Regions from separate parts of the Homo sapiens genome. Here region 2 is linked to region 1. The links come from fine-mapping of genetic effects on gene expression. A gene starts in region 1. The other region holds a variant in brackets. All regions are shown on one strand. Distances are between the middles of the regions.

Evidence for each region.
Region 2: its variant is fine-mapped to the expression of NR1H3 in whole blood (INTERVAL, PIP above 0.99).

What each region holds. Positions count from the first base shown.
Region 1 is chr11:47,252,097-47,267,602 of GRCh38, reverse strand. It overlaps NR1H3 (nuclear receptor subfamily 1 group H member 3), which reads right to left and starts at 9,607. Exons shown (of 10, transcript NM_005693.4): 1 at 9,474-9,607; 2 at 8,344-8,423; 3 at 7,624-7,812; 4 at 6,928-7,194; 5 at 6,154-6,362; 6 at 5,877-6,056; 7 at 5,585-5,684. The coding sequence starts at 8,386. RefSeq lists enhancers at 2,071-2,365, 7,599-8,167.
Region 2 is chr11:47,220,433-47,235,938 of GRCh38, reverse strand. It overlaps DDB2 (damage specific DNA binding protein 2), which reads right to left. Exons shown (of 10, transcript NM_000107.3): 4 at 2,980-3,125; 5 at 1,267-1,366; 6 at 1,005-1,182; 7 at 527-669. Among named protein-coding and RNA genes, the nearest start is that of DDB2, 13 kb to the right of the region's middle. The variant AAAAAAAAAAAAG/G (reference allele first, on the strand shown) is at 9,193.

The DNA of each region.
Region 1 (15,506 bases):
CGGGAGGCAGAGGTTGCAGTGACCCAAGATTGCACTACTGCACTCCAGCCTGGGCGATAGAGCGAGATTCCGTCAAAAAAAAAAAAAAGGTCTACAAGGCTTTGCTGTGTAACCTTGAGCAAATGTCTTAACCCCTCTATAAGCCTCATCTGTGAAATGGGAATCATATCTGAACCCTTCTCAGAAAATTGTTGGTATAGTTCAATGACAAAGTATGCAGGGCACTTAGCGCTGTGTCTGGCACACAAGAGGTGCTGAATTAAATAATAATTCTGGTATTCTTGTTTTTTTTCTTTGAGACAGGGTCTTGTTCTATCACCCAGACTGGAGTGCAGTGGCACAATCACAGCTCACTGCAGCCTCGACCTCCCGGGTGCAAGCCATCCTCCTACTTCAGCCTCCCTAGTAGCTGGGACTACAGGTGCATACCATCACAAGTAGCTAATTCTTATATTTTCAGTTGTGACAGGATTTCACCATGTTGCCCAGGCTGGTCTCGAACTCCTGGACTCAAGCAATCCACCCGCCTCGCCCTCCCAAAGTGCTGGGATTACAGGCACCAGACACCATCACCTGCCAATTCTGTCATTAAAATTCTTGAGGGCTCCACATTTCTAGAAATAGAGGCAACTCTTATTTTTGTTTATCAAGAATCGTTTTTCAGCAAGGCACGGCGGTTCATGCCTGTAATCCCAGTATTTTGGGAGGCCGAGGCAGGGGGATCACCTGAGTTCAGGAGTTTGAGACCAGCCTGGCCGACATGGCAAAACCCTGTCTCACTGAAAATACAAAAATTAGCTGGGCGTGGTGGTGCACTCCTGTAATTCCAGCTACTTAGGAGGCTGAGGCAGGAGAATTGCTTGAATCTGGGAGGCGGAGGTTGCAGTAAGCCGAGATCACGCCACTGCACTCCAGCCTGGATGACAGAGCGAAACTCCATCTCAAAAAAAAAAAAAGAAAAAGAAAAAAGGCTGGATGCGGTGGCTTATCCCTATAATCCCAGCACTTTAGGAGGCCGAGGCAGACGGATTGCCTGAGCTCAAGAGTTTGAGACCAGCCTGGGCAACACAGTGAAACCCGGTCTCTACTAAAAATACAAAAATTAACTGGGCATGGTGGCGCACCTGTAGTCCCAGCTACTCGGGAGGCTGAGCAGGCGAATTGCTTGAACCTGGGAGGTGGAGGTTGCAGTGAGCCGAGATTGTTCTACTTGCACTCCAGCCTGGGCGACAGAGCAAGATTCTGGCTCAAAAAAAAAAAAAATCCTTTTTCAGCAGGGCACGGTGGTTCACACCTGTAGTCCCAGCTACTCAAGGAGGATCACTTGAGCCCAGAAGGTCGAGGCTGCATTGAGCCATGATTGATCACACCACTGCATTCAGCCTGGGCGACAGAGCGAGACCCTGTTTCAAAGAAAAAAAAAAGACTTGTTTTTCACTGGCATTGGCCTTACTTATTTGAACACTAGAGATACATTTCATGTATCACATCCTCGAGGGAATATTGCAGTATGGGTGAGGATGTGGATTTTGGTGCCAGACTGCCTCGGGTTGAGTCCTGCCTCTACCACTTACAAGGCAGTGTGACCTTGTGTAAGTTATTTAACCTCTCTGGGCTTTGGTTTTCCCATCTGTAAAATGGGAATAATAATAGTACCTATCTCATAAATATGTGGCATATATGGTAACTACCACATAAGTGTTTGTAAAATAAATAAAAAAATTTTTTTTGAGACAAAGAGTCTTGCTCTGTTGCCAGACTAGAGTGCAGTTGCATGATCTCGGCTCACTGCAAGCTCTGCCTCCCAGGTTCAAGCAATTCTCCTGCCTCAGCCTCTTGAGTAGCTGGGACTACTGGTGCATGTCACCACGCCCAGCTAATTTTTGTATTTTTAGTAGAGACAGGATTTCACCATGTTGGCCAGGATGGTCTCGATCTCTTGACCTCGTGATCTGCCTGCCTCGGCCTCCCAAAGTACTGGGATTACAGGCATGAGCCACCGCGCCTGGTCAATAAATAATACATTTTTCTTGGAAACAGTCTTCCTGCTGAGAAGACTAAAATGCAACAAAACATGAGCTAAAGTAATGATACCTAGAGAATGTCTCTCATACACATTGTCAAAGTCTCTGCACCCTACAGAGTTCCCCAGGCTTTGTCAGATTTCTTTTAGCAACCATCTGCTACACTTTTCCATTCAAGGCTTCTTGGTGAGTCACTTCCTGTACTTTCACCCTGATGTTTATCAAGTGTTGTGTGTTGGTCCATTTAATGGGCAGGCCCCATTTTCTTTTTCTTTTTTCTTTTTTTGAGATGGAGTCTTGCTCTGTCACCCAGGCTGGAGTGCAGTGGCGCGATCTCAGCTCACTGCAACCTCAGCCTTCTGGTTCAAGCAATTCTCCTGCCTCAGCCTCCTGAGTAGCTGGGACCACAGGTGTGCACCACCACGCCCAGCTAATTTTTGTATTTTCAGTAGAGATGGGGTTTTGCCATATGGGCCAGGCTGGTCTCGAACTCCTGACCTCAGGTGATCCGCCTGCCTCGGCCTCCCAAAGTGCTGGGATTTCAGGTGTAAGCCACCACGCCCGGCGGCAAGCCCCATTTTCTAAAGCATTTCTTGGTGAGGTTTTGAGCCCCAAAGTGTGGCAAACAGCCCCCTTTATAGAGAAATTAAGAGGAGGTTCTATAGTTAGCTAATGCACCTCTGAGGGTCTGCTGATGCCCACGGAATGAACACCTCAAATGTGCTCAGTCCATGTCACCAGTTATCTACTGCATGCAGTAAATAGTAGCGGATAGGGAGGGGAGGAGACTTGACAAGCAGAGCTCCTGTTCCTTCTCCCCAAGACCTCACTCATGAAATAAGAAATGCAAGCATGATTACTTCAAAACTGCTTGTATAAATAAATCTATGAATAGGTGCAGATTCAGATAGCATGAGTCTACAAGTGCCAAAGGAATACAAAGATCTTAGAACTGGGCAGGGTTCCACAAGGAGGATATTCTGAAGGAGGGGAGAGCCACGGTTAAGAAGGTCTGAGATAATAACCATCGAGGAAAAAGTGGTTTGGAAGAGGGGAGCAGGGCTGGGCTTTAAAGCTGGATAAAGTCATTAAATCACCCCATTAGGTGTCAATACATCCAGGCAGCACACCGGTTACTATAGAAGGCAAAAGGTGCCAACATAGCCCTGTTATGCCCTACAGCGAAGAGTGGCCTTCCTAGAAAGCTCACTGGGTGGACTGCGTTGGGAGAGCAAGAGGCACGTGAGCTGGCCTGAGTTATCAGAAACCAAGGAAGGCTTGATGACTGGCCTGGCCACAGATCTACCAGCCCTGAGAGTGGAGTCAGGGCATCAGCCATATTTTACAGCCCCACTCATCCAGTCGTTAAGCTACTTGGTTTCCTGCTGAAGCTCAATTCCAGTCCCTCCAAAACTCCCTCAGCCTCCCGTCCTTTCCCAGGCCAGTTCTCATGATACAAACATTATCAATAGTTGAATATGAAGAAACCCCTTCTGCGTAGCTCCCAAGCGAGCATCAGATAGAGAGCCGCAGAATGAACTAATTTTTGGAGAAAATACTTCAGATATAGGATGGAGATGGAAGCATTCGCTCTTATTGTACATCCTCTCTGGGCATGTTTGCCATGCCATGGTTCTGGTTCGTCAGAAAGTGCAATTGAAAAAGAGTAGGGGAGGGGCCTGGACAAGTGGCTCATGGCTGTAATCCCAGGACTTTGGGAGGCCAAGGCGGGCGGATTGCCTGAGCTCAGGAGTTCAAGACCAGCCTGGGCAAAACAGTGAAACCCCATCTCTACTAAAAATACAAAAGTTAGCTGAGCGTAGTGGCGCGCGCCTGTAGTCCCAGCTACTCAGGAGGCTGAGGCAGGGGAATCGTTTGAATCCGGGAGGCAGAAGTTGCAGTGAGCCAAGATCGCGTCACTGCACTCCAGCCTGGCAACAGAGTGAGAATCCATCTCAAAAAAAAAAAAAAAGAAAAGAAAAAAAAAGAAAAAGAGTAGGGGAGGCTGTGTGTGGTGGCTCATGCCTGTAATCCCAGCACATTGGGAGGCCGAGGTGGGTGGATCACTTGAGCTCAGGAGTTCGAGACCATTTTGAGACCAGCCTGGGCAACATGGCGAAACCCACTCTCTACAAAAAAATATAAAAATTAGCCTGGCATGGTGGTGCATGCCTGTAGTCCCACCTACTTGGGGGCTGAGGCAGGAGGATTACTGGAGCCCAGGTGGTTGAGGCTGCAGTGAGCCACGTTCATGCCACTGCACTTCAGCCTGCGTGACAGAGCAAGAACTTATCTCAAAAAAAAAAAAAAAGTAGGGGAAATCAGCCCCCATGATCCCCAAAGAGCACATGTGAGGAAGATTTGTTCACTTTTTGACTACTAAAAAGTTGAGTGCACTGAGTTTCAAACTTTTTTTTCAAGCTGTAAAATCTGCAAGCAAAATACTATGTAGCAGTGCAATATATAATGCAGATTTAAATGGAGCTTCTTGTTTGGCTAAAGTAAAGATGAAGGACATTCCTGTGCCTCCCTGTTTCTCCTCCAAGGTGCCATTCCATATATCTCTCAGGTTCCTTGGAATACAGTTTGAAAACCACTGACCTAAAGCAACAGAGGACAGGGGTCTATCTGGAGCAGCTGAGAGAAGCCTATCAGCATTCCAATTTTCTATCTTCAAAAAACAAGGGAGCCTTCCCTTACCAGCCACCCAAACATTGGGCCTGTGGCTCTGTAGTCACTATGGGCCTCTGACAAAAAGCACCAGTCCTGGCCAGGTTCAGTGGCTCATGCCTGTAATCCCAGCATTTTGGGAGGCTGAGGCACATGGATCACTTAAGGTCAGGAGTTCAAGACCAGCCTGGTCAACATGGTAAAACCCTGTCTCTACTAAAAGTACAAAAATTAGCTGGGCATGGTGGTGCACCTAATCCCAGCTACTTGAGAAGCTGAAGCAGGAGAATTGCTTGAACCCGGGAGGCGGAGGTTGTAGTGAGCCAAGATCACGCCACTGCACTCCTGCTTGGGTGACAGAGCAAACTCTGTCTAAAAAAAAAAATGAAACAAAAAAAAAGTACTTGGCCGGGCATGGTGGGTGGCTCACGCCTGTAATCCCAGCACTTTGGGAGTCAGAGGCAGGAGGATCACTTGAGGCCAGGAGTTTGGGACCAACCTGGGCAACATAGTAAGACTCTATCTCAATTTTTGTTGTTGTTGTTGTTGTTGCCCAGGCTGGAGTGCAGTGGTGCGATCTTGGCTCACTACAACCTCTGCCTCCCAGATTCAAGTGATTCTCCTGCCTCGATCTCCCAAGTAGCTGGGGCTACAGGCGCGTGCCACCATGCCTGACTAATTTTTTGTATTTTCAGTAGAGACAGGGTTTCACCGTGTTAGCCAGAATGGTCTTGATCTACTGACCTGGTGATCTGCCCACCTCGGCCTCCCAAAGTGCTGGGATTACAGGCATGAGCCACCGCGCCTGGCCCTCAATTTTTAAAAATAAAAAATAAAAAAAGAAGCATCTGTCCACCCAACCCCAATCCCTGTGTGATCTCAGTTCTCACCTGCTTTGGCAAAGTCTTCCCGGTTATAACTGAAATCCTTGAGGAAGGTGATACTCTCACTCCCAGGGTTGTACCTCCGAGATGTCTCCAGAAGCATCACCTGCACACAAGCAGCAAACCTCAAACGGGGACTAGGAGGGCTGGTCTTGGAGCATGGCCTCTTCCAGGGAGGCCGATTCTCCTCATCCCTGCTTCCCAGCAGATTTGGCTCTCCCAGCTCGATGTCTGGAGGCCCCTCCCACAGATAATCCCACTCTGCTTCTCCCTTCATCCCTTGCCCTTCTCCAGCCACCTCGATCGCAGAGGTCTTCAGCAGGGCAATCTGGTCCTCCCGGCTGAGCTGCAGGAAGCCGGGTAGCTGTTTAGCAAAGTCAACTATCTCCTGCACAGAGACGATGGCCAGCTCAGTGAAGTGGGCAAAGCGCTGCTGACGGGCCTCCCGGCTATGGGGATCTGGTGCCATGGGCCAAGGCTACCCAGGAGGGAAAAGGCAAAGCGCTTTGAGTCGGACATCAAGAAGCCCACTGGTGATCTGGGCGCAGCCGCCTCTCCCCAGGTGTGTCAAGTACCGTGACTCGAAGCCGGTCAGAAAAGGAGCGCCGGTTACACTGTTGCTGGGCAGCGACGAGCTTCTCGATCATGCCCAGTTGTTCCGGGCTGAGCTGGGGCAGGATTTGGGGGGGTGAGGAAGCCCTGGGGGGCAAGGATGTGGCATGAGCCTGTTCCTCCTCTTGCCGCTTCAGTTTCTTCAGGCGGATCTGTTCTTCTGACAGGACACCTAAGGACAGGGCCAAATATGAGGAAGGGAGCAGATGGGGAAAGGATGGGGCAAGGGGGTGGGGGAAAGACAGGAGGGAAGGATGGGGCAAAGGGGGTGGTTTGGGGCTCCAGAAAAGCAGACAGCACTGGGTAAAGGCAAGAAGATTTTTTTTTTTTGAAACAGAGTCTCACACTTGCTCAGGCTGGAGTGCAGTGGCATGATCTTGGCACACTGCAACCTCCACCTCCCGTGTTCAAGTGATTCTCCTGCCTCAGTCTCTTGAGTAGCTGGGATTACAGGCGCTCACCACCACACCCGGCTAATTTTTGTATTTTTAGTAGAGTCGGGGTTTCACTATGTTGGCCAGGCTGGTCTCGGACTTCTGATCTCAGGTGATCCACCCGCTTCGGCCTCCCAAAGTGCTGGGATTACAGGCATGAGCCACCGCGCCCGGTCAAGAAAGATACTGGGATCCATACTTAGGGATCAGTTAGCCCCTGCAAGTTCAGGCACCTGTTTTGGGTCACACCCTGGCCCCCTCTTTCCCCTCAGCCTCTTCCCCACTCCAGCCCCAGAAACTCACACTCCTCCCGCATGCCAGCCTGACGGCATTTGCGAAGCCGACACTCCTGGCACTTGCGACGCATGTAGGTGTCCATGGGGCAGTGGCCGCCACTGTGGCAGATGTAGTGCGCTCCCTTGATGACGCTGCGGCGGAAGAATCCCTTGCAGCCCTCGCAGCTCAGAACATTGTAGTGGAAGCCCGAGGCCTTGTCCCCACACACGCTGCATAGCTCGTTCCCCAGCATTTTGGGGGCTGGCCCCTTTTTCCGCTTTTGTGGACGGATCTCTGGATACAGGAAAGTGCTTCAACGCTCTCCCCCGAGGAAAAACATCATGTTCTCCCTGACTCAGCCACTGCCCTGGGCACTCAGTGACCTTCATTCCCTTCATTATACAAACTCCAGTCTCTCTTTTATGAGAAGAGTAGCCCTCATTTGCCAAGTGCCATTATGTTCTAGGTACTGTATGAGCCTTTTATATGCACTGATCCTTATGACAACCATAATTTTTATTTCCATTTTATAAACAAGGAAAGTGAGGCTCAGAAAGGCCTAGAGACAAAATTCACACTTAGATCAGTCAGATTTAGTTAGCTCTAAAGCCTCTGAACTTAACCATGAGATTATATATAAAGTAAAAACCCCCAAGGAACCTCTTCCAGATCCAGGACCTGGAATCTGGACCCCTACCTCCTCCAAACCCAGAAGCTCCTCACCTGTGGGTTCTGAAGGGGGCTCTGCCCTGGTGAGCAGGGCTGTGGGCTCTGCAGCCTCCAGCCCCACCCCTGCAGTACCCCCAGCAGAGTGGGGCATCCTGGCTTCCTCTCTGAGGATGCAGCTGCTGCCTCCCTGGGCCTGGCTGCTTGCATCCTGTGCGCCTGGCTTCCACAGCTCCACCGCAGAGTCTGAGCTCCAAAAGAGAGGCACAAGGGGGTCTCAGGCCCCATCCCGGCTCCACGGCCCAGCGTCCTAGCTGGGAAACTGCAAACTTATCCCCACCCTTAGAGGGCAGCAAAGTCCCAGCTCAGGCTTTGGGACCCTAGAGTCTGTGTGGGCTCTAGCTAGGACTAGTCACTTGTAGTTTCTTACATCTCAGGACCTTAAATGAAGATGTTAATCCTTGTCCCTTTGGGGGGCTGGAGTGTATGCATTTCAGAGATCAGATAAAACTCTTCAAAGCCAGAGCAGGGTAAGCACTCAGCTGGCCAACTCTCTAGCAGCAAATCCAGACTGGGGAGGACTGGGCGGGTGCCTGCAAGGGCCAGGCACTGGAACCAGGGGAGAGGTGATCTGGGCGGGAGGCAAGCACGACTAAGAATGACTCTGGACTGCTCTCTGGAGGAAGGAAGAAGGCAGGTAATGAAGGAGGCTGATTCCTACAGGAGGCGTGGAGCCTGCGGTCTGGGCTCAGGGGAGAGGGATGGAATGAAGCTTACCAGGAGGAATGTCAGGCACAGGGGCCCCCAGCCACAAGGACATCTCTTCCTGGAGCCCTGGTCATTACCAAGGCACTGTCCTGCAGGAAGGACCCAGATTATACTCTTCTAGAACTGGGCTCCTTTCTGGCCTCAGCTCCCTTCTCCACCTGATCCTCCCTTTTATCAATATCAACAATATCAGCTAACATTTACTTGCCATATATTAGCCTGTACTAAGGCTTTATTATATTACTATTATGTTTTTTAGAGACAGGTTCTCCCTATTTTGCCCAGGCTAGTCTAGGAATTCCTGGGCTCAAGTGATCCTCTCACCTGGGCCTCCCAAAGTGTGGGGATTATTGGAGTAAGCCACTGCGCCCAGCCTGTTATAAGGCTTTATGTGCTTTCCTCATAATATCCCTCTGAGGTCAAAACTATTAATTTTTTTTTTGAGATGGGGTCTCTCTATGTTGCCCAGGCTGGAACTCAGTGCTATTCACAGGTGCAATAATAGGACACTATCGCCTCAAACTACTGGGCTGAAGCAATCAGGTTTCAGCTTCCTGAGTATCTGAGATTATGGGCGCACGCTACTGCTCCTGGCTCAGGACTATTCTTAAACTCATTTTACAGATAAGCAAACTGAGGTTCAAAGAGATTAAGTAACTATGGTCACACAGTTAGGCGGCGGTAGAGTCAAGACTCCAACCCTCCTCTGACTCCAAAGTCTGGGCTCCCAGCCACCGTGCCGGCTTTTCTCCCCCAAAGTCCCCTCCAGGCCAGCAGGGAATGTTTGGGTGCATCTGCCCTGCTTCTCTTGGGCCCCTTCCCCCTCACTCCAACACTGAGGACAGCTCACTCCACCCAGTGAAACACGCTGCTTATTAGAGAACCTCGCTCGTGCCACTTTCCAGGGTCCCAGCACAAACCTGTCTCCAAGAATCTCCCCAATTCACATAGAGGACCTCCTCCCCTGAGCCCCTCATGAGTTATTCTGGGACCCAGAGTCCTGCTCCTGTCCCAAGCTTCCATCACCATCACCCCTCACTTCTCCCCAGAAACCCCCTTCTCAGATCCTTAGGACATTCCCCGACCCCACCCCAGATACACACACAGAGCCCCAGGCCACTGCTAAGGAGCAGACCCACCAAATCCCCAGGCCACCAGACTTCCTGGGTGGGCAGTCTCTGGAGCCCCCTTGCTGGGAGAAGAGGATGGTGCAGTTTCCTGTCCAGAAGTCTCGGTGGCCAGCCAGTGAGCTGGAGCTGAGCACAAGCAGGACCTGGAGCCCCAGAGAAGTAGCAATTTGGGGAAAGGCTGAGGGGAGGGACTGCCGAGGGGTCAGGCCACCCCTCCTTCCTGCCTGGTGACCACAGCCCTCCCCTCCTCACCCCCGCCCACAGGGCAGCTTCTCCACCAGGCTGGCTCCTCCCCAGCCGGCCACCCCCTCTCCCGCCACTCCCGCCCCCTACTCCCGGCCAAAACAGTGGCATTTCCCTGCAGACCAGCCAAGTTCCATGTCTCTCCCCTTCCTCTCCTTACCCAGCGCTCTTAGCAGCTCTTGCAAAAGGACTGCCTCCCAGGAACCCCCACCCCAATCCCAGCAGCCTCCAGAATCGTGTTCCCTCCCCTCCATAGGCACCTCGTGGAGCAAAGGTCCCAGCACGGCCCGGAATTGCGACACTGAGCCCCAGCGGCTTTCCCAGCCTCCCTCCTCCTCCCTTGCCTCTGGGAAGAGGCCAAGAAGCTCTCCCCACTAGCCCCAGGCCTCAGCCAAGCTGGTAGAAATCCAGGGGTGGAGAGAGGCAGGTGCTGGGCCTTCCAGGGAGTTTCTGAAAGTGGGTGCCCTGCGGGGGCCACAGATAAGAGAGGAGGCCAGGAGAGCCTTTGATAGGAAATCTGCTATGAGCAGTGGCAGGCCTGGGATAGGGGTGGAGGTGGCAGAAGGAAGACAGGCAACTCAGGTGGCAGCCCAGGATGGACCTGGGAAGGTATGCGGGTTGCCTCTTCTGGGGAACAACCCCATCTGAAGTGATGGCAGGCTCCAACCAGCAGCTACTGAGACTATAGTCATTCTTCCTACTCTGCTGCCTGGGGCATGAAATCCATCCCTGAAAGTAGACATCATATTTTATTGATTTCATCTCCCCCAACACCCCTGAAACAGGGCTGGCATAGATGTGGCAACAGAGTAGGTACTGTGTTCCTATTTGTTGAATGAATAACAAGAAAAATATAATATATTCTCGGCCGGGCGCGGTGGCTCACGCCTGTAATCCCAGCACTTTGGGAGGCCGAGGCAGGCGGATCACGAGGTCAGGAGATCGAGACCATCCTGGCTAACACGGTGAAACCCCGTCTCTCCTAAAAATACAAAAAATTAGCCGGGCATGGTGGCAGGCGCCTGTAGTTCCAGCTACTCGGGAGGCTGAGACAGAAGAATGGCGTGAACCCGGGAGGCAGAGCTTGCAGTGAGCCGAGATTGCGCCACTGCACTCCTGCCTGAGTGACAGAGCGAGACTCTGTCCCCAAAAAAAAAAAAAAAAGAAATATTATTCTCGTCTATCCCGTACTTATTAGCCCTAGTCAATTTTTTTTATTATTCCTTTTTTTTTTTTTTTTTACCTTTTTTGGGGTAGGGTCTCACTATGTTGCCCAGGCTGGCTTCACACTCCTGGGCTCAAGCCATCCTCCCACCTCAGCCTTCCAAAGTGCTAGGATTACAGGCACACGCCATCACAACTGCTGTAGTCAATTTCAACTCAGCATGTTGATTTAGCGTTCAGACTCTGGGCTCAGATTTTGGGTTCAAATCCTAAACCTCTTATTACCTATGTGATCTTGATTGAGCAAGTTACTTAACGTCTCTGAATCTTTGTTTCCCTATCTTTAAAATAAGAATAGTTGAGCCAGCAATGGTGTGTTGAAAAATAAATAGAACGGGCACGGTGGCTCACGCCTGTAATCCCAGCACTTTGGGAGGCCTAGGCGGGTGGATCACTTGAGGTCAGGAGTTCGAGACCAGCCTGGCCAACATGGTGAAACCCCGTCTCTACTAAAAATACAAAAGTTAGCCAGGCATAGTGATGCGGGTCTGTAATCCCAGCTACTCGGGAGGCTGAGGGAGGAGAATCACTTGAATCTGGGAGGTTGCAGTGAGCCGAGATTGTGCCACCACACTCCAGCCTGGGTGACAGACTGAGACTCCATCTCAAAATAAAAAAAAGAAAAAGAAAGAAAGATAAATAAAATAGGGATAATAGTAATTTTTACCACACAAGGTTGTTGTGGGATTGAAACTACAGATCATGCAGGGTGCGGTGGCTCATGCCTGTAATCCCAGCAGTTTGGGAGGCCAAGGCAGATGGATCACTTGAGGTCAGGAGTTCCAGACCAGCCTGGCCAACATGGTGAAACCCCATCACTACTAAAAATACAAAAAATTAGCCGGGTGTGATGATGCATTCCTGTAATCCCAGCTACTCAGGAGGCTGAGGCAGGAGAATCACTTGAACCTGGCAGGCAGAAGTTGCAATGACCCGAGATCGCGCCATTGCCCTCCAGCCCGGGCAACAACAGCAAAACTCCAAAAAAAAAGAAGAAAGAAAGAGAGAGAGAGAGAGAAAGAGAAAGAAAGAAAGAAAGAAAGAAAGAAAGAAAGAGAGAGAGAGAGAGAGAGAGAAAGAAAGAAAGAAAGAAAGAAAGAAAGAAAGAAAGAAAGAAAGAAAGAAAGAAAAAGAAAGAAAGAAAGAGAGTCTATCACAACGTGTGGCACATAGTGTTTGAGAAATGGCACGAGTTATCATCACCCTCCCAGTTCTTTCAGCTGTAGGTCTTCCCATTGCTTTAACTTGGTGGATTTTGAACTTTGTACTTGTTTCCATACACAGCACAAACCCTTCACTATCTTTTCTGGTCCTTAGAGCAGCGCTGGGAGGAAAGGAGGGTAAGTAACCCGAGCTCCATTTGACAGAGAACACTGAAACTCATGTGAGGGCCTTTTCCAAGACCACACAGTTAGTGGCTGGGCTGGGATCAGAACCCAGATGTCCTCACTCCAGTCCCTTTGCTGTGTCAGAGTCCAGGACAATCTTGTCTTGTTGCGTCTTGGGCCAGTGAAGTGCTGTAATGGAAGCAGCCAGGGCTGGTGGGCTACAGGGGAGAGGCTGAGAACCCTGCAGATGCTCCAGTCCAGATGTGGGAGGCAAGCTGCTGAGGTTACTGCTGGTCATTCACCCCCTGCCCCATTCCCAGTTTCCTGCTCACCGGCTCTTCCTGTTTTGCTATGAACTCCAGTTCCCATGGGCCCCACATTAAAGCATAGAAGGACGGGGGCCAGGGCAAGCAGCCAAAGAGACCGAAACAGATGAACAGGGCACCAGGGAAGAGAACACAGGAAACAGGGAAAGAGTGGACAGGGGGTGTAGATGGGACAGAAGGAACCAGATGAGAAAAAGATGAAGGCTGAGGCAGAAGAGCAGCCTGGTGAAAGATGAGAGGAAGCACAGGGTGGGAGAGGGGGAACAGGCCGGGGCTGGGGAGCAGAGTGTGAGAAGACAGCAGGCTGGGTGCTGTTGCAAAATCTGCCCATGTATTCATTTTCACATTTCAGAAAAGCCCCTGTGACACCCCCATCTCAGACTTCTGCCTCCAGCTTTTGCTTTTGTTCCCCCTCATCACAAGGTCGTCCCCTCCCAAGGCCCCCACCCTGGTCTGGGTATCTCTGAGTCACAAGCACAAGGCTCTCCATTCCTCTCGCCTGTGTTCCCTCTCTGATTTTCACAAGGCCCCAGCTGTCCTGGAAAAGCAGAAACCAGGGACTCTAGTCACTGAGAGACTGGCACTATTCTGTCCCAGCACCCACATCACCAGTCCAGCTCCCTCCTCTACCTCCCTGCTCCCAGAAGCTCCAGCCCAGCAGGGCAGCCAGAGATGTCACAGAGATGGCTGGTTTCAAGAAACTCAGGACTCAATGGTCTGGGGCCTGGTGCCCTATCTTCTGGGAGCTGGGAGAAGCCTCTTTCATCCACTTTGTTCTTCAACTCCCTCCCCTGACACCTAGTCTCCCCACAGGTGGCTTCCCAGGACCCAGGACCACATACGAGCCCCATCTTGTGGGAGTGGGGGTGGGCAGGCTAGGGTCTCCTGTTTAGGAGGAATTATAACCAGGACTTCAACTGCCAGAGCCGTCCTATCAGGTTACAGCTCAGAAACCCCAACCCTCATCCCTACAAAGAGGGAAAAGGAGAGGAAAATGGGAGAAGACCAAAACCTGTGGGCAGTATTTCCATGGAGTTTCTGGAGACCAACCACTGAGACTTACTTCAAGCCAGGGCAAGCAGTGAAGTGATCAGCAGCTGGAATCATGTTCCCACTTTGGCAGCCCCACCCCCGTGCCACAGTCCCACCAGCCCACAGTTGTTAGGTCCAAAGTCCCCCAGTCCTATGGGCCTCTTCTGTGTTTCCTTGGCTCCTGCAGGAGGCAATGTCTCTGGGAACACACTCGGGGATCTACCAAGTCACATATCTGGCCCCCCAGAACCTCCACAGGTTTCTTCTCACAGCAAGGAGAAACTTGAAGCAGAAACAGGAGCATTCACCAGCCATGGTCACAGGTAGTACTGGCTAACTGCCCTGAAAGTACTCATTCCCATGAAGCAGGCCACAGGGTAAGGTCTGCAGGGATGGACCAGGAGAACTGCTTCTTGTTCCCTCCTTCACCGTTCTGGAAGGGTGGAAAGTGCAGGGATCATCTTGCAGACCACTGCGTATCTACTCAAGTGACTTCTGCCCAACCTTCCAATCACAACATAGAGAATAATCCAGAAACCTGGATTCCCAGACCTGAGTTCAGAGATGATACAGAAGGCAGAAAGGAAAGATGTGACATTTATTTCATCCCTACTACATACATTTATCTTTACATGCATTATTTCATTTATTCTCACAGTAAACTCTAGGAGATAGTTACTAGCAAGGGGCAAATATCAAATTTGAATACAGGTATAAGACTGGGTGTGGTGGCTCACACTTGTAATCCTAGCACTTTGGGAGGCCAAGAAGGGCAGATCGCTTGAGTCCAGGAGTTTGAGACTAGCCTAGGCAACATGGCGAAACCTCACCTTTACAGAAAACACACACACGCACAAAAATTAGCCAGGCGTGGTGGCATCTGCCTGTAGTCCCAGCCACTTGGGGGGCTGAGGTAGGAGGACTGTTGGAGCCCAGGAGGTCGAGGCTGCAGTGAGCCATGATTGCACCACTGCACTCCAGCCTGGGTGACAGAGGGAGACTGTCTCAAAAAAAAAAAAAAAAAAAGAATACAAGTTTAGCTGATTCAAAAGTTTGAGCTCAAGCTCAAACAAACAAAAATCACAAATACACTCCATTATATAAAACTGCCGGCTGGGGCCGGGCGCAGTAGCTCATGCCTGTAATCCCAGCACTTTGGGAGGCCGAGTGGGTGGATCACTAGGTCAGGCTAACACGGCGAAACCCTGTCTCTACTAAAAATACAAAAAAAAAAAGCCAAAAAAATTAGCCAGGTGTGGTGGCAGGTGCCTGTAGTCCCAGCTACTCGAGAGGCTGAGGCAGGAGAATGGCGTGAACCTGGGAGGTGAAGCTTGCAGTGAGCCGAGACTGTGCCACTGCACTCCAGCCTGGGCGACAGTGGGAGACTCTGTCACAAAAACAAAACAAAACAAACAAAAAAAACAGCCGGGTGGGTGCGGTGGCTCACACCTGTAATCCCAGCACTTTGGGAGGCCAAAATGGGCAGATCACCTGAGGTCGGGAGTTCGAGACCAGCCTGACCAACATGGAGAAGCTGTCTCTACTAAAAATACAAAATTAGCCAGGCGTGGTGGCACATGCCTGTAATCCCAGCTACTCGGGAGGCTGAGGCAGGAGAATCGCTTGAACCCGGGAGGCGGAGGTTGCTGTGAGCCGAGATAACGCCATTGCACTCCAGCCTGGGCAACAAGAGCAAAACTCCATCTCAAAAACAACAACAACAACAACAACAACAACAAAACAAAACAAAAACTGCCTCTTCAGATGGAAAAAAAATGGCTAACATACCTGGATTTAGGTTTGCTTCTGCCAACACAGAATATGGTAGTGGTTCCTGTCCTCACCTTCAGAGATTCTGATTTATTTGATCTGGGATAGGCCCACATATC
Region 2 (15,506 bases), 32 kb after region 1:
AAAAAAAAAAAAGGATCAGCCTGGGTAACACAAGAATACCCTGTCTCTACAAAAAAAAAAAAAGTGAGGCAGGAGGATCGCTTGAGCCTGGGAGATCAAGGCTGTAATGAACCATGCTTGCCCCACTGTACTCCCACCTGGGTGACAGAGCGAGACCCTGCCTTAAAAAAAATAATAAAAAAATAAAAAATGAAGGTTTGTGGGTCAACTGTACACAGGTAACTGAAGCTGAGAAGACAGAACAGAGGGTCAGGATCTTAGAAAATTCTCACAGTGAGATCAGAGCTGGGCTGAAAAAACTCAGAAAAATATCTTATCAGCGAGACAGAAAACTCAACCATATGGGATGGCAGAAGTGGGATAAAAGGAAGAGAGAGAGCCAATGGGTAAGAGATGCTCTGTGCTCGGGCCAGGAGCGATCTGGGGTGGCAGGCTTACCACATCAGCCCTTCCCCACTGTGGGCAGACCTGCTCCGGCCTCATGATCACAGCCTCCTTCTGCGAGCTCCTTCCCACCGCCACTCACCTTGATGGGTGTGAGGTGCTGGAAGTGACGGTGAGGGTGCGGGATCAGGCCCAGGGGGCAGTCCCACTGGGAAGCAGAGTAAACTCGGATCTCGCTCTTCTGGTCCGTGGTCAGGAGCCGGGCTCCATCGGGACTGAAACAAGCTGGCAAAGTGAAAAGCCCCTGAGCTGAAGGAACCACAAGCCCTCTGTGGTCCTGGCCTTGCAGGCCTTCTCCTGCAGGGGTACTCTCCCTCCCACTCCTCTCTAGACAGGAGCGGAAAGGAAGAGGTGAATCTGGGCTGTGAACAACAACAAAAAAATTCTGGAAACTCAGCAGCTGATGGGGACAGCCACAGCCACAAAGGTTCCCAGACATCAGCTTGGCAGACGCTATCAGGGGTAAAGGTTTGACGTAGTGGCTTCCACACTGAGGGAAAACCCCAGCAGTGGTCAGACAGGCAGGGTCTGCAGGAGAGATGAGGTCTGGGATATCACACCTGCGTTGACAGGATGCCTGTGCGGCAGCGAGTAGAGGAAGCTGGCTTTCCCTCTAACCTGGCGCAGGTCCCAAATTTTCACTGTTTGATCTACGGAGGCTGTGGCCAGGAACCAATCACAGCATGGGTTCAGGGCCACATGCGTCACTTTCTTTTTGTGCATTCTGAGATTCCAAAGCTGCAGAGAAGAGCTCGGTTCAGGTGGGGACACAGAACCGAGGTGGGGGTGAGGGAGGGAAAGGCAGGACCTCGGAGAACGCACCTCTTTGCCGTCCATGTTCAGCAGGATCACGTTCCCCACGTTGTCTCCTGTGACCACCATTCGGCTACTAGCAGACACATCCAGGCTACAAAACCAGATGCTGGAGGGAGAGACTGTGTTGTAAGATTCTTGGGGACAGAGATAGTCCTATTTACTCACTGTTGCCGCTCCGGTGACTAACCCACAGCGGGCATTCAATAAATATTTGTTGAATGAATGAATAACTGTCTTGCCGTGGATTCCTAGTGAGGAACATTCAGACTGCTCTACCGTCCAGACAGAGGGGATGGGATAATGGGGCTCAGAAATCTGTCTGGTTATGGCTGGGCCCAGGATCCCCAGCTCCTAAAAGTCCCTGAAGCAGACAAAGCTTATACCATAAAGCAAGCCCTGAGGCACGCCTGCCCCCCACACCCCGGGTTCTGAGCAAGCCTCCTTTACTGCTCTCTCCTTTCACTCTTCACCCTTTAGGCCAAAGGAGACACAAGCCAAAGAGGGATTGCCTGGCCCTGTTCCTCAGAGCTGGCTAGAAAAGCACTTCTGCCCCCTTCTGAACACTGGGGGAAAAAACACAACCAGGAGCTCTTCTGGTCCCTCAAACCACTGGACTGGGAGGCTGACTAGGAGGGTGCTTCAGGGATCCTGCTATTCAGCCAGAAGAGCTCAGCTCACAGTTTTTCTCTCAAACTCTCAAATCCATGCTACACTGCCTTTTGCCATCCCCTATGAATATCTTCAAGCAGGAAGATTTCTTGCGGAAGAGTAGCCTGGAGCCTTGTCTATCCAATTGCCTGCTGATTTGCGTGCGCATGCACTCCTCATCCCTGCGGGACAGCCCAGGATCCAATCCAATGCTAGTTACACCCCAGCACCCTCACTTAATTCCTCAGGGAGCAGTCAGAGTCACGGCTCTAGCTGGAAATCAAAGTGACGAGTATTCTGTAATTTTTTTTTTTTTTTTTTGAGATAGATTTTCGCTCTTGTTGCCCAGGATGGAGTGCAATGGCGCCATCTCGGCTCACTGCAACCTCTGCCTCCTGGGTTCAAGCGATTCTCTTGCTTCAGCCTCCCAAGTAGCTGGGAATTACAGGGGCCTACCACCACGCCCAGCTAATTTTTTGTATTGTTAGTAGAGATGGGGGTTTCACCATGTTGGCCAGGCTGGTCTCGAACTCCTGACCTCAGGTGATCCACCCACCTTGGCCTCCCAAAGTGCTGGGATTTCAAGCATGAGCCACTGCACCCGGCCGCATTCTGTAATTTCTCCAGCCACTTTCTCTTGGGAAGTCCAGAGCACTTTATGGAAAAGATTCCATCCATATAAGCTTCCACCCAGGAACAGGTCAGGTCATTACACCACAGTGAGTGCAGGGCATTCAGTCTCAAGTTCTGAGCTGTTGCTCCATTCTCTAGGTGGCTTTCTGGGTCCACGCCATGCTGGCTTATCTAGTGAGGGTCAAGGTCCAGTCTAATACAGGTATGACTTACAGAAGAGCTGAGGCTCCAGAACACCTTCCCAAAGCAGTAACCCACCTGGACCAAAGTGAGGGCAGCCAAGGAGCAGTTTGAGAAAGAGAAAGAAGGGCGGAAAGTGGCTGACATCTTTCCTTTCTTCCCTGGGCCAGGTTGGGTTAAGGAAATGGGATCTGGATGCTCTTGCCGGAACTACACCTAAGCTTAGAAGCCCTTTCCCCTGCTAGTTAAACTACTCACTTGATGGTGTCTGAGCTGGCAAAAACTCGTAGAATGTTGCCTTTAAAGTCTTGCAGCCTAGTTGTTCCCTCCATTGAGGAGGCGTAAAACTGGTTGGTATTGAGAGGGTTAAACTTCAGCCCAGTGATGCTCCCTCCAGCTCCAATCTAACACGAGGAAGGAAAAAGCCAGTGAGTGATGATGGGCCTGGCCGTGAGGAACCAGGCCTGGGCACACATGCTGCGCCGTCACAGAAGCACCCCTCGAGCAGCGCTTGGGGCCAGGTCAGCTTAGACACTAGGACGCTCTCTACAGGGCCTTCACTTCTTTTTCTTTTCCTTTGAAATAGGGTCTTTCTCTGTCACTTAGGCTGAAGTGCAGTGGCACAAACACGGCTCACTGCAGCCTCAATCTCCTGGGCTCAAGCGATCCTCCCACCTCAGCCTCCCAAGTGCGTGCCACCATGCCCAGCTAATTTTTCTATTTTTTTTTTTTAAGATGGGGTTTTGTCACGTTGCCCAAGCTGGTCTTGAACTCCTAAGCTCAAGCGATCCCCCTGCCACGGCTTCCCAAAGTGCTAAGATTACAGGCATGAGCCGCTTTGTCTGGCCCCTTCATTTCTTTCTTTTTTTTATTTTTATTTTTATTTTTATGTTTTTGAGATGGAGTCCTGCTCTGTCACGACCTCGGCTCACTGCAACCTCTGCCTTCCAGGTTCAAGCGATTCTCCTGCCTCAGCCTCCCAAGCAGCTGGGATTACAGGTGCCCACCACCACGCATGGCTAAATTGTATATTTTTAGTAGAGACAGGGTTTCACCATGTTGGCCAGGCTGGTCTGGAACTCCTGCCCTCAGGTAATCCGCCACCCTTGGCCTCCCAAAGTGCTGGGATTACAGGCGTGAGCCACCGTGCCCCGCCTCCCTTCATTTCTTAAGGCTTTATTTTTACTTTTTTTTTTAATTAACATATAGCAAATTTGGGATATAAAGTTCTCTGAATTTTAACATATGTATAGACTTAAATAACCACCACCCAAATCAGGATGCAGAACATTTGCAACAGCCCAAAAACTCCATCGTGGTATCCCATTGTAATCACACCCTCCCCTCGCCCCCAGCCCCTGGCTGATCTGTTCTCCATCACTATTGTTTTGCCCTCATAGAATGTCCTATAGACCGAGCACAGTAATCCCAACACCTGGGGAGACTGAGGCGGGGGGATTGCTTGAGGCCAGGAGTTCAAGACCAGCCTAAGCAATATAGGGAGACCCCATCTCTACACACACAAAAAAAATTTAGACATGGTGGTAGGTGCATGTGGTTCTAGCTACTCAGAAGGCTGAGGTGGGAAGATGACGGAAGCCTGGAGGTCGAGGCTGCAGTGAGTTGCGATCGAATCACTGCACTCTAGCGTGGGTGACAGAGCAAGACCCTGTCTCTAAAAATAAAATAAAATAAAATTAAAAATAGAATGTCATGTAAATGAATTAGGCAGTATGCAACCTTTTGAGACTGTCTTGTTTCATTTCACTCATCATGCCTCTGAGATTCATCTGAGTTTGCTGTATCAAGAGCTCATCTCATTTTATTGCTGAGGTATTCCATTACATGGATGTGCCCTAATTTGTTATTCCCACAGTGCTCTCTTTAGAAGAGCTTCAGCTCAGAGCAGTGGCTGAGTTAGGAGGGCAGGAGTCAGATCTGTGCCCCTTCCTATTCTTCCAAACATTCATGAAAATGATGATGAAAATAATCATGAGAATATCAATGGCTTAACCTTATTAAGTGCTTACTATGTACTAGGCGCTGGTTTTTTGGGGGGATTTTCTTTGTGTGTTTTTTTTTTTTTTTTTTTTTTTTTGAGATGAAGGCTTGCTCTGTCGCCCAGGCTGAAGTGCGGTGGCACAACCTCAGCTCACTGCAGCCTCCACCTCCTGGATTCCAGTGATCCTCCTGCCTCAGCCTCCTGAGTAGCTGGGATTACATGCCCACACCATCACACCCAGCTAATTTTTGTATTTTTAGTAAAGACAGGTTTCACCATGTTGGTCAGGCTGGTCTCGAACTCCTGACCTCAGGTGATTGGCCTGCCTCGGCTTCCCAAAGTGCTGGGATTACAGGCGTGAGCCACTGCGCCCAGTCAGGCACTGTTTTAAGAACTTTACATCCCCAAGATGTAAAGTTCTCCACTTGTCCGCCTTTCTCCACCTTTTCCACTTCTTCTTTACGCTGCAGCTATCCCAGCCTCACAGACCTGTACAAGTTCTTCTATGCAACAACCACTTAGCTATCACAACATACTAACTGGCACATTCCCTTCCCTCTATAAAACATTCTAACCTCACGGTCATTCTAATGCTCATGGTCTGCCAAATGCTTGCTGGTAGTATGACAATCTTCGGCTCCCTCCAGTTGAGTTCTATGCTTACCAAACCAAGGGTTGGTTGTAGTTGTTCTCAAACCTGTTTATTCCAATTGTATCTTTTATTGCAATTAACACCAAATTTAATTAAGCATGTAAATTGATGAAATACATGCAAAAACAAAGGCCATTATTACTACTATAAAAGCCGTGTTGAAAGCTTTGGAAGAACTTGATAATGAGTTGCAAAAATAATAGCTATTGGCTGGGCACAGTAGCTCACATCTATAATCCCAGTATTTTGAGGGGCTGGGGCAGGAGAATCGCTTAAGGCCAGGAGTTCAAAACCTTGATGCAGTGGTGCAATCCTGGCTCAGCGTAGCCCCAACCTCCTGGGCTCAAGCAATCCTCCCGCCTCAGCCTCCCAAGTAGCTGGTGCTATAGGCTATAGGTGTGTGTCACCAATTTTTTTTTTTTTTTTTTTTTAGAGACAGGGTCTCACTATGTAACTCAGGCCAGTCTCAAATTCCTGGGCTCAAGCAATCCTTCCACCTCAACGTCCCAAAGTGCTGTTACAGGCATGACCCACTGGGTCCAGCCTCTATAAAAAATTATTAAAAATTAGCTGGGAGTGATGGTGCACACCTGTGCTCATAGCTATTCGAGAGGCTGAGGTGGGATGGTGACTTGAGCCCAGGAGTTCAAGGCTGTAGTTAGCTATGATCCTGCCACTGCATTCCAGCCTGGGTGGCAGAGCAAGACCCTGTCTCTATTAGGAAGAAGAAAAAAAAAAAAAAAAAGAAGAGCCATCAAATTAAGCATAGGGTGAGATACTTATAAAAGATTAAGGTAATAAAAATGTAAAAGGAATCTGCAATCAGATTGCTTCACAACTGTCTTACTTTGTATACTGAAAACCTTAAATTTGTATCAATGTCTTCAATTCAAAGTCAACACCACAGAGTTGATTCGAGTTTCTCTCTTTCCATGTTTATAATTCCCTTCTTTGACAGTGAAAAATGTGGTTCCCATTTTACTCAATATACTTACATATTTGATTAATCTCCTTGTATGTAACCAGTCTTCCACTATTGCTGCCACACACTCCCCAAATGCACGTCTTCCTTAGGATGCTTGGACTCTTTTACCCTCCCGAGGGCACAATCACCCTCTTCCCTCTCTCCACTCCCTCAACCATGCAGACACAACTTCCTTGCCCACATCAGGCGCCACGGCCGCCCCTCTCCATGCAAAAGCCCTGCTCACCCCACTTGACTCCGCCACCCCACTCTAGGCCTCCCTGTGGTTCAGCATCCTCAACCCCGCTTCAGACTTCACTATTCCATGCCCGGCCTCCTCTACTCTTCACCCCTGCCTACATGGATGCCCTTCTGATCTTGTTTGGGCCCAGTCTCTATGTACTGAGCTGCCACCTGCCACCTGTAATGACATTCACCTCAGCTTCAGGGGCCCCAGCATCTGGCACTTCCAGCACTGTAGCCTTCCCACTACGTAAACATCTATCTTGCTTGATCCTACCTAATGACTTTTGGTTTGAACTGTTCAGGAAGGGAAAAAGAAGATGAAGAAAGAGGAAGATAGATAGATAGATAGATAGATAGATAGATAGATAGATAGATATTTCTTTTTTTTTTTTTTTTTGAGATGGAGTCTCACTCTGTAGCCCAGGCTGGAGTGCAATGGTGCCATCTCAGGTCACTGCAACCTCCGCCTCCTGGGTTTAAACAATTCTCCAGCCTCAGCTTCCCAAGTACCTGGGATTACAGGCTCACGCCACCACGCTTAGCTAAGTTATGTATTTTTAGGAGAGATGGAGTTTCATCATGTTGGCCAGGCTGGTCTCGAACTCCTGACTTCAAGTGATCCGCCTGCCTCGGCCTCCCAACAGTCATGAGCCACCGGACCTGGCTGAGGAAGAGATATTGATCTTTCCTTCCTTTTTTTTTTTTTTTTTTGAGACAGAGTCCCATGCTGTTGCCCAGGCTGGAGTGCAGTGGCACAATCTTGGCTCACTGCAACCTCTGCCTCCTGGGTTCAAGCAATTCTCCTGCCTCAGCCTCCCGAGTAGCTGGGATTACAGGTACCTGCTACCATGCTTGGCGAATTTTTGTGTATTTTTAGTAGAGACAGGGTTTTGCCATGTTGGCCAGGCTGGTCTTGAACTCCTGACCTCAGGTGATCTGCCCACCTTGGCCACCCAAAGTGCTGAGATTACAGGAGTGAGCCACCGCACCCAGCCAGATATTGATCTTAAACCCTCCGTCTCCACAGACTAGAAAAAGAGGGAATAATTCCCAAGCTAAAGAGGGCAGCATAATTTTTTTTTTTTTTGAGACAGAGTTGTGCTCTGTCGCTCAGGCTGGACTGCAGTGGTGCACTCAGCTTACTACAACCTCTGCCTCCTGGGCTCAAGCAATTCACAGAAATCAGCATAATCTTTTTTTTTTTTTTTTTTTTTTGAGACAGAGCCTCACTCTGTTGCCAGGCTGGAGTGCAGTGGTACGATCTCACCTCACTGCAACCTCCACTTCCCAAGTTCAAACGATTCTCTTGCCTCAACCTCCCGGGTAGCTGGGATGACAGGAGTGCGCCACCACGCCCAGCTAATTTTTGCATATTTAGTAGAGACGGGGTTTCACCATGTTGGCCAGGATGGTCTCCATCTCCTGACCTCATAATCCGACCCCCTCGGCCTCCCAAAGTGCTGGAATTACAGGCGTGATCCACCACGCCTGGCCAGAAATCAGCATAATCTTGATACACAAATGTGACAAGGATTTGGCCAATTTTACACATGAACACAAATGCAAAGATCTTAAAATATTTGCCAGCTCAATCCAGTAATATTTAAAAACGATAAATATGTTATGGCCAGGATGAACTTATTCCAAGAATGCAAAGTTGGTTTAACTATTAAAAATCAATCGGGCCAGCTGGGCGTGGTGGTGGGTGCCAGCTTCTTGGGAGGCTGAGGCAGGAGAATTGCTTGAACCCGGGAGGTGGAGGTTGCAGTGAGCCAAGATTGCGCCATTGCACTCCAGCCTGGGTGACAAGAGTGAAACTCCATCTCAAAATTAAAAAAAAAAAAAAAATTCAGGCATCAAAAGAAACAATCGACAAAGTGAAAAGGCAATCTATGAAGTGGGAGAAGATATTTTCAAATCATAGATCTGATAAGAGGTTAATATCATGGCCGGGCGCAGTGTCTCACACCTATAATCCCAGCACTTTGGGAGGCCGAGGCGGGTAGATCACCTGAGGTCAGGAGTTCAAGACCAGCCTGGCCAACATGGTGAAACCCTGTCTCTACTAAAAGCACAAAAATTAGCCGGGCATGGTGGCGCATGCCTGTAATCCCAGCTACTCAGGAGGCTGAAGCAGGAGAATTGCTTGAACCCGGGAGGTGGAGACTGCAGTGAGCCGAGATTGAGCCATTACACTCCAGCCTGTACAACAGGAGCAAAACTCCATCTCAAAAAAAAAAAAAAAAAAAAAAAAGGTTAATATCCAGAATATATAAAGAACCCCTACAAAACAACAACAAATAACCCAACTAAAAAACAGGCAAACAGGAGTTCAAGACCAGCCTGGGAGACATAGCAAGATCCAATCTCTATAAAAAAAAATTTTTTTTTAACTTAGTAAGTCCTTTCTGTAAGAGACAGCGAAAAAAACAAAACAAAACAAAGTTAGCAAGGTATGATGGTGAGCACCTGCAGTCCCAGTTACTCGGGTGGCTAAGGCAGCAGGATCACTGGAGCCCAGAAGTTCGAGGCTGCAGTGAGCTATGATTGTGCCACTGTACTGCAGCCTGGGTGACCAAGTAAGACCCTGTTTCAAAAAAAAAAAAA[AAAAAAAAAAAAG/G]GCAAAGGACTTGAATAGACATTCCTTCAAAGAAAATATACAAATGGCCAAGAAGCACACGTAAAGATGCTCAATATCACTAATCATTAGAGAAATGCAAATGAAACTACACTGCTATCACCTCACATCCCTTAGGATGGCCACTATCAAAAAAACAGAAAAGGCCGAGCATGGTGGCTCACACTTGTAATCCCAGCAATTTGGGAGGCCAAGGCAAATGAATCACCTGAGGTCGGGAGTTCAAGACCAGCCTGGCCAACGTGGCAAAACCCGTCTCTACTGAAAATACAAAAATTAGCCGGGCATGGTGGTGTGCGCCTATAATCTCAGCTACTGGAGGCTGAGCCAGGAGAATCAGTTGAACTCAGGAGGCAGAGGTTGCAGTAAGCTGAGGCTGTGCCACTGCATTCCAGCCTGGGCGACAGAGGGAGACTTCATCTCAAAAAAAAAAAAAAAGAAAATAAATGTTGGTGGGGAAGTAGAGAAGTTGGGACATTTGTACACTGCTGATGGGAACATGAGATGGTATAGCCAGTATGGAAAACAATATAGCGGTTCCTCAAAAAATGAACAACAAAATTACCATTTGATGAAGCAATCGTACTTATTGGCATAAGCCCCAAAGAACTGAAATCGGGGTCTCAAAGGGATATTTGCACATCCACATTCACTGCAGCATTATTCACAATAGCCAAAAGATGAAATCAACCCAAGTGTCTGTCAATTAATAAACAGATAAACAAAAGGTGGTACACGCAAACAATGGAACATTATTCAGCCTTAAAAAAGGAAATTCTGCCACATGCTACAACATGGATGAATCTTAAAACACTGCATTAAGTGAAATAAGCCTGTCACAAAAAGACAAATACTGTATGATTCCACTTAGATGAGATATCTAAAGTAGTCAAACTCACAGAAACAGAAAGTAGTACTGTGGTTGCCAGGGGCTAAGGGGAGGGAGAAGTGGAGGCTTGTTCAGTGGGTATAGAGTTTCAGTTTTACAAGAAAAAAGTTCTAGTGATCTGTTGCACAACAATGTGAATATAGTTAACATTACTAAACTGTACACTTAAAAATAGTAAAGATTGTAAATTGTTTTACGTGTTTTCTACCAGTTTTTTGTTTTTTTTTTTTAAAATAGAGATGGAGTCTCGCTCTGTTGCCCAGGCTGGAGTGCAGTGGCATAATCTCGGGTCACTGCAACTTCTGCCTCCCGGGTTCAAGTGATTCTCCTGCCTCAGCCTCCCCAGTAGCTGGGATTACAGGCGCCCACGACCATGCCCAGCTAATTTTTTGTGTTTTTAGTAGAGACGGGGTTTCACCATGTTGGCCAGGATGGTCTCGATCTCCTGACCTTGTGATCCGTCCACCTCAGCTTCCCAAAGTGCTGGGATTACAGGCGTGAGCCACTGAGCCTGGCCCACAATTTTTTTTAAAAAAAGCAGTATTACTTGTTAGAGTTTTTTTTTTTTTTTTTAAAGACACAGGATCGGGCCAGGAGCAGTGTCTCAAGCCTGTAATCCCAGCACTTTGGGAGGCCAAGGTGGGTGGATAACTTGAGGTTAGGAGTCTGAGACCAGCCTGGCCAATATGGTGAAACTTGGTCTCTACTAAAAATACAAAAATTAGCTGGGCGTGGTGGTGCACACTTGTAATCCCAGCTACTCAGGAGGCTGAGGCAGAAGGGTCGCTTGAACCTGGGAGGTGGAGGTTGCAGTGAGCTGAGATCTCATGCCAGTGCACTCCAGCCTGGAAGAGAGAGTGAGACCTCATCTCAAAAAAGAAAGAAGAGGAAATAATAAATATGAGGAGAGAAATGGAAGACATGAAAAAAAATCCAAATTAAACTTCTAGAGGGGATATACAGTATCTGAAATGAAAAATACGCTGGGCTACTTTGCCTATGGAGCAGCCCTGCTCTGCACAGGCAAGAAAGAGAAGAGAAAAGGAAGAGGAAGAGAAGAGAGAGAAAGGAACGAAGGGAGGGAGGGAGGGAGGGATTGACAGCAGAAGGTTAGATATTACAGAAGTAAAGATCAGTGAACAACTGCACAAAATGAAACAGGGAAAAAGACAAAAATGAACAGTGCATCAACCACCTGCAGGACCATATGTAATCGCAGTCCCAAGAAAAAAAGAACTGTTCTTTTTCTTCATTTTGAACTCTTTGTAAGAAATAATGGGCTGGGCAAGGTGGCTCACGCCTGTAATCCCAGCACTTCAGGAGGCCAAGGTGGGCGGATCACTGGAGGTCAGGAGTTCAAGACCAGCCTGGCCAACATGGTGAAACCCTGTCTCTACTAAAAAAATAAAATAAAAATAAATAAATACAAAAATTAGCCAGGTGAGGTGGTGGGCACCTGTAATCCCAGCTACTCGGGAGGCTGAGGCAGGGAGAATCGCTTGAACCCTGGAGGTGGAGGTTGCAGTGAGCCGAGATTGTGGCACTGCACACCAGCCTGGGCGACAGAGTGAGACTTTGTCTCAAAAGAAAAAAAAAATCCATAAATCAAAGAAGCTTAGTGATCCCCCCACAAGCACATCATAATCATTTTTAAAGCGACCAGAAGAAAAATTACATAGACAGGAACATAAGGATAGTAGCAGACTTCTCATCAGGATGTTTTGTTTTGTTTTGTTTTTAATTGAGACAGGATCTTGCTCTGTCACCCAGGCTTGCCTAGCTCACTGAAGCCTTGTCCCCCTGGGCTTAAGCAATTCTCCCACCTCAGCCTCCTGAACAGCTGGAACTACAAGTTCAAGCCACTAGCTAATTTTTAAGATTTTTTTGTAGAGATGGGGTCTTGCTGTGTTTCCTAGGCTGGTCTTAAAGTCCTGGCCTCAAGAGGTCCCCCAGCCTCAGCCTCTCAAAGTGTTGAGATTACAGGCATGAACCATTGAGCCCAACTAGAAATCATCTTTATTTTTATTCTTTATTTATTTATTTATTTTAGACGGAGTCTTGCTCTGTCACCCAGGCTGGAGTGAAGTGGCCGATCTCGGCTCACTGCCAGCTCTGCCTCCTGGGTTCACACCATTCTCCTGCCTCAGCCTCCCAAGTAGCTGGGACTACAGGCGCCCACCACCACGCCTGGCTAATTTTTTTTGTATTTTTAGAACAGACAGGGTTTCACCGTGTTAGCCAGGGTGGTCTCAATCTCTTGATCTCGTGATCCGCCTGCCTCGGCCTCCCAAAGCGCTGGGATTACAGGTGTCAGCCACCGCGCCCAGCCTTATTTATTTATTTTTGAGACACAGTCTTGCTCTGTCACCCAGAATGGAGTGCAGTGACACCATCTCGGCTCACTGCAACCTCTGCCTCCCAGGTTCAAGATTCTCATGCCTCAGCCTCCCGGGTAGCTGGGATTACTGGTGAGCGCCACCACACCCAGCTAATTTTTGTATTTTTAGTAGAGGCGGGGTTTCACCATGTTAGCCAGGCTGGTCTAAAACTCATGATCGCAAATGATCCACTTGCCTTGGCCCCCCAAAATGCTGGGATTACAGGCGTAAGCCACAGCGCCCAGCCTAGACATCATCTTTAAAGTACTGACAGGAGAAAACTGTGAACAAATATATTGTATGCAATAAAATACAATTTTAATTTACCAATTAAAAAATAAAAGTTAAATAATTTTAAAAACTGTGAACCTAGAATTCTATACTTAGCAAAAACATCCTCCCTCAAAATAAAGGCAAAATACTTTTCTAGATAAACAACAGTGGAAAGTATTTATCACCAATCTGCATTATAAGAAATATGAAAGGAATTTCTTCAGGCAGAAAGAAAATATTACCAAAAGGAAATCTGGATCACATGAAAGAATGAAAGCACTGGAAATGACAATATGTGGGCAAATAGAAAAACCTTTTCTCATTTAAAAAGTATCTTTAAAACATTCCTACTCTATAATCCAGCCATTCCACTGCTAAGTATTTACCCAAGAAAAATGAAAACATATATCCACACAAATACTTGTACGTGAATGTTCACAGTCGCTTTATATGTTGCATTCAAAAACTAGAAAAAAATTCAAATGTCCTTGAACAGGTAAATGAATAAACTGTATCATATCAGTACAATGTGGCTGGGTGCAGGGGCTCACGCCTATAATCCCGGCACTTTGGGAGGCTAAGGCAGGAGGATAGCTTGAGGCCAGGAGTTTGAAACCAGCCTGTGCAACACAGTGAGACCTCTGTCTCTATAACAAAATTTTAAAATTAGCCAGGTATGGTGGCCTGTGCATGTAGTGCCAGCTACTCAGGAGGCTGAGGTGGGAGAATCGCTTGAGCTGAGGAGGTTGAGGCTATGCTGAACCATGATCATCCCTGGGTGACACAGCAAGACCCTGTCTTAAAACAAAAAACAATGAACCATTATTCAGAAAGAAAAAAAAAACTACACATAAAAATGTAGATAAATTTCAAATAATTATACTGAAACAAGCTAGAACAAAAATAAAAGACCATATATTCTATGATTCTATTTATATATAGTTCTAGAAAATGTAAATTAATTTCTAAAAATAAAAAATAGATCAGCAGTTTACAGTGAATAAGATATTGGGTAGAGAGGGGTGGATTACAAAGGGGCATAGATAACTCATCTATCTATCACTCTCCAAATATTCAACAAAGGGTGGGGAAATGGGAGTTATTTTAATTGTGGTGATGGCTTCACAGTTGTACACATATGTCAAAACTCATGGAATTGTACAATTTATTCTTTTTTTCTTACTGCTTCTCTGGAGTAGGACTACCCCATAGGCTGAGAATAGCCAAATTGTACACTTGAAATAGCTGCAGTTTATGTCCACTATACCTCAATAAAGATATAATTTTAAAAACCCAGGCCGGGTGCAGTGGCTCGTGCCTGTAATCCCAGCATTTTGGGAGGCCGAGGCGGGCGGATCACTTGAGGTCAGGAGTTCGAGACCAGCCTGGCCAATATGGTGAAACCCTGTTTCTACCAAAAATATAAAATTCAGGCTGGGCACGGTGGCTCACACCTGTAATGCCAGCACTTTGGGAGGCCAAGGCAGGTGGATCACCTTAGGCCAGGAGTTCAAGACGAGCCTGGCCAACACGGTGAAACCCCGTCTCTACTAAAAATACAAAAATTAGCTGGGCATGGTGGTAGGCTCCTGTAATCCCAGCTACTCAGGAGGCTGAGGCAGGAGAATCATTTCAACTCAGGAGGCAGAGGTTGCAGTGGGCCGAGATCGTGCTACTGCACTCCAGCCTGGGCAATAGAGTGAAACTCTGTCTTAAAAAAACAAAACAAAACAAAAATTAGCTGGTGTGGTGGTGCATGCCTGTAATCCCAGCTACTCGGGAGGCTGAGGAAGGAGAATAGCTTGAACCCAGGAGGCGGAGGTTGCAGTGAGGTGAGATCGCACCACTGCACTCCAGCCTGAGCGACAGAGCAAGACTCAGACTTGGAAAAAAAAAAAAATAGTGTACACATGCACAGAGGGATGCTGAAAATGGGGATTTTGGATCATATTTAATTTATTTTTTACACTTTTCTCTGTATTTTATGATAAGAATACACTGTTTTGTTTTTTGAGAGATGGAGTCTCACTGTGTCGCCCAGGCTGGAGTGCAGTGGCACCATCTCAGCTCACTGCAACCTCCACCTCCCAGGTTCAAGTGATTCTCCTGCCTCAGATTCCTGAGTAGCTGGAACTACAGACGTGCACCACTACTCCCGGCTAATTTTTGTATTTTTAGTAGAGACAGGGTTTCACTATGTGTTGGTCAGGCTGGTCTCGGAACTCCTGACCTCAGGTGATCCACCCGCCTCGGCCTCCCAAAGTGCTGGGATTACAGGCGTGGGCCACTGCGCCTGGCCCCATACATTGTTTTTATAATAGGAATAAAATTAAGCTATCTTCATTGTGAAACTGTAATACATGTTCCCTTGCCAAGGGCCTGAAGAATGTAAAGGTCACAGCCAAGGTCAGATGACTAAAGAAGTGACAAAATGAGGCACTGTTGCTCCTCCAGTAACTGGTCTCAAATCAGCATTCTGCTGTCAGCATCTGGGAGTAAAACCAGACAGGTCTCTTCCAGACTGCCATACCCTTCCTCTGCTCCAACCTAGCTCCCTGCAAATGCAAGCCACAAAATTCAATGCCTAGACCAATCTTCATTACAGTGTAAAGAAAGTTTACACTGTAAAGAAGGTTACACGCATGTCATAAGGTGATGCAACAAAGAAAAAAAGCAATCTCAGTCTGGCACAAGTTCAAAGCACTTGTCATTATCCTGTTAGTCAGGAAGCTCTTCCCCTAGAA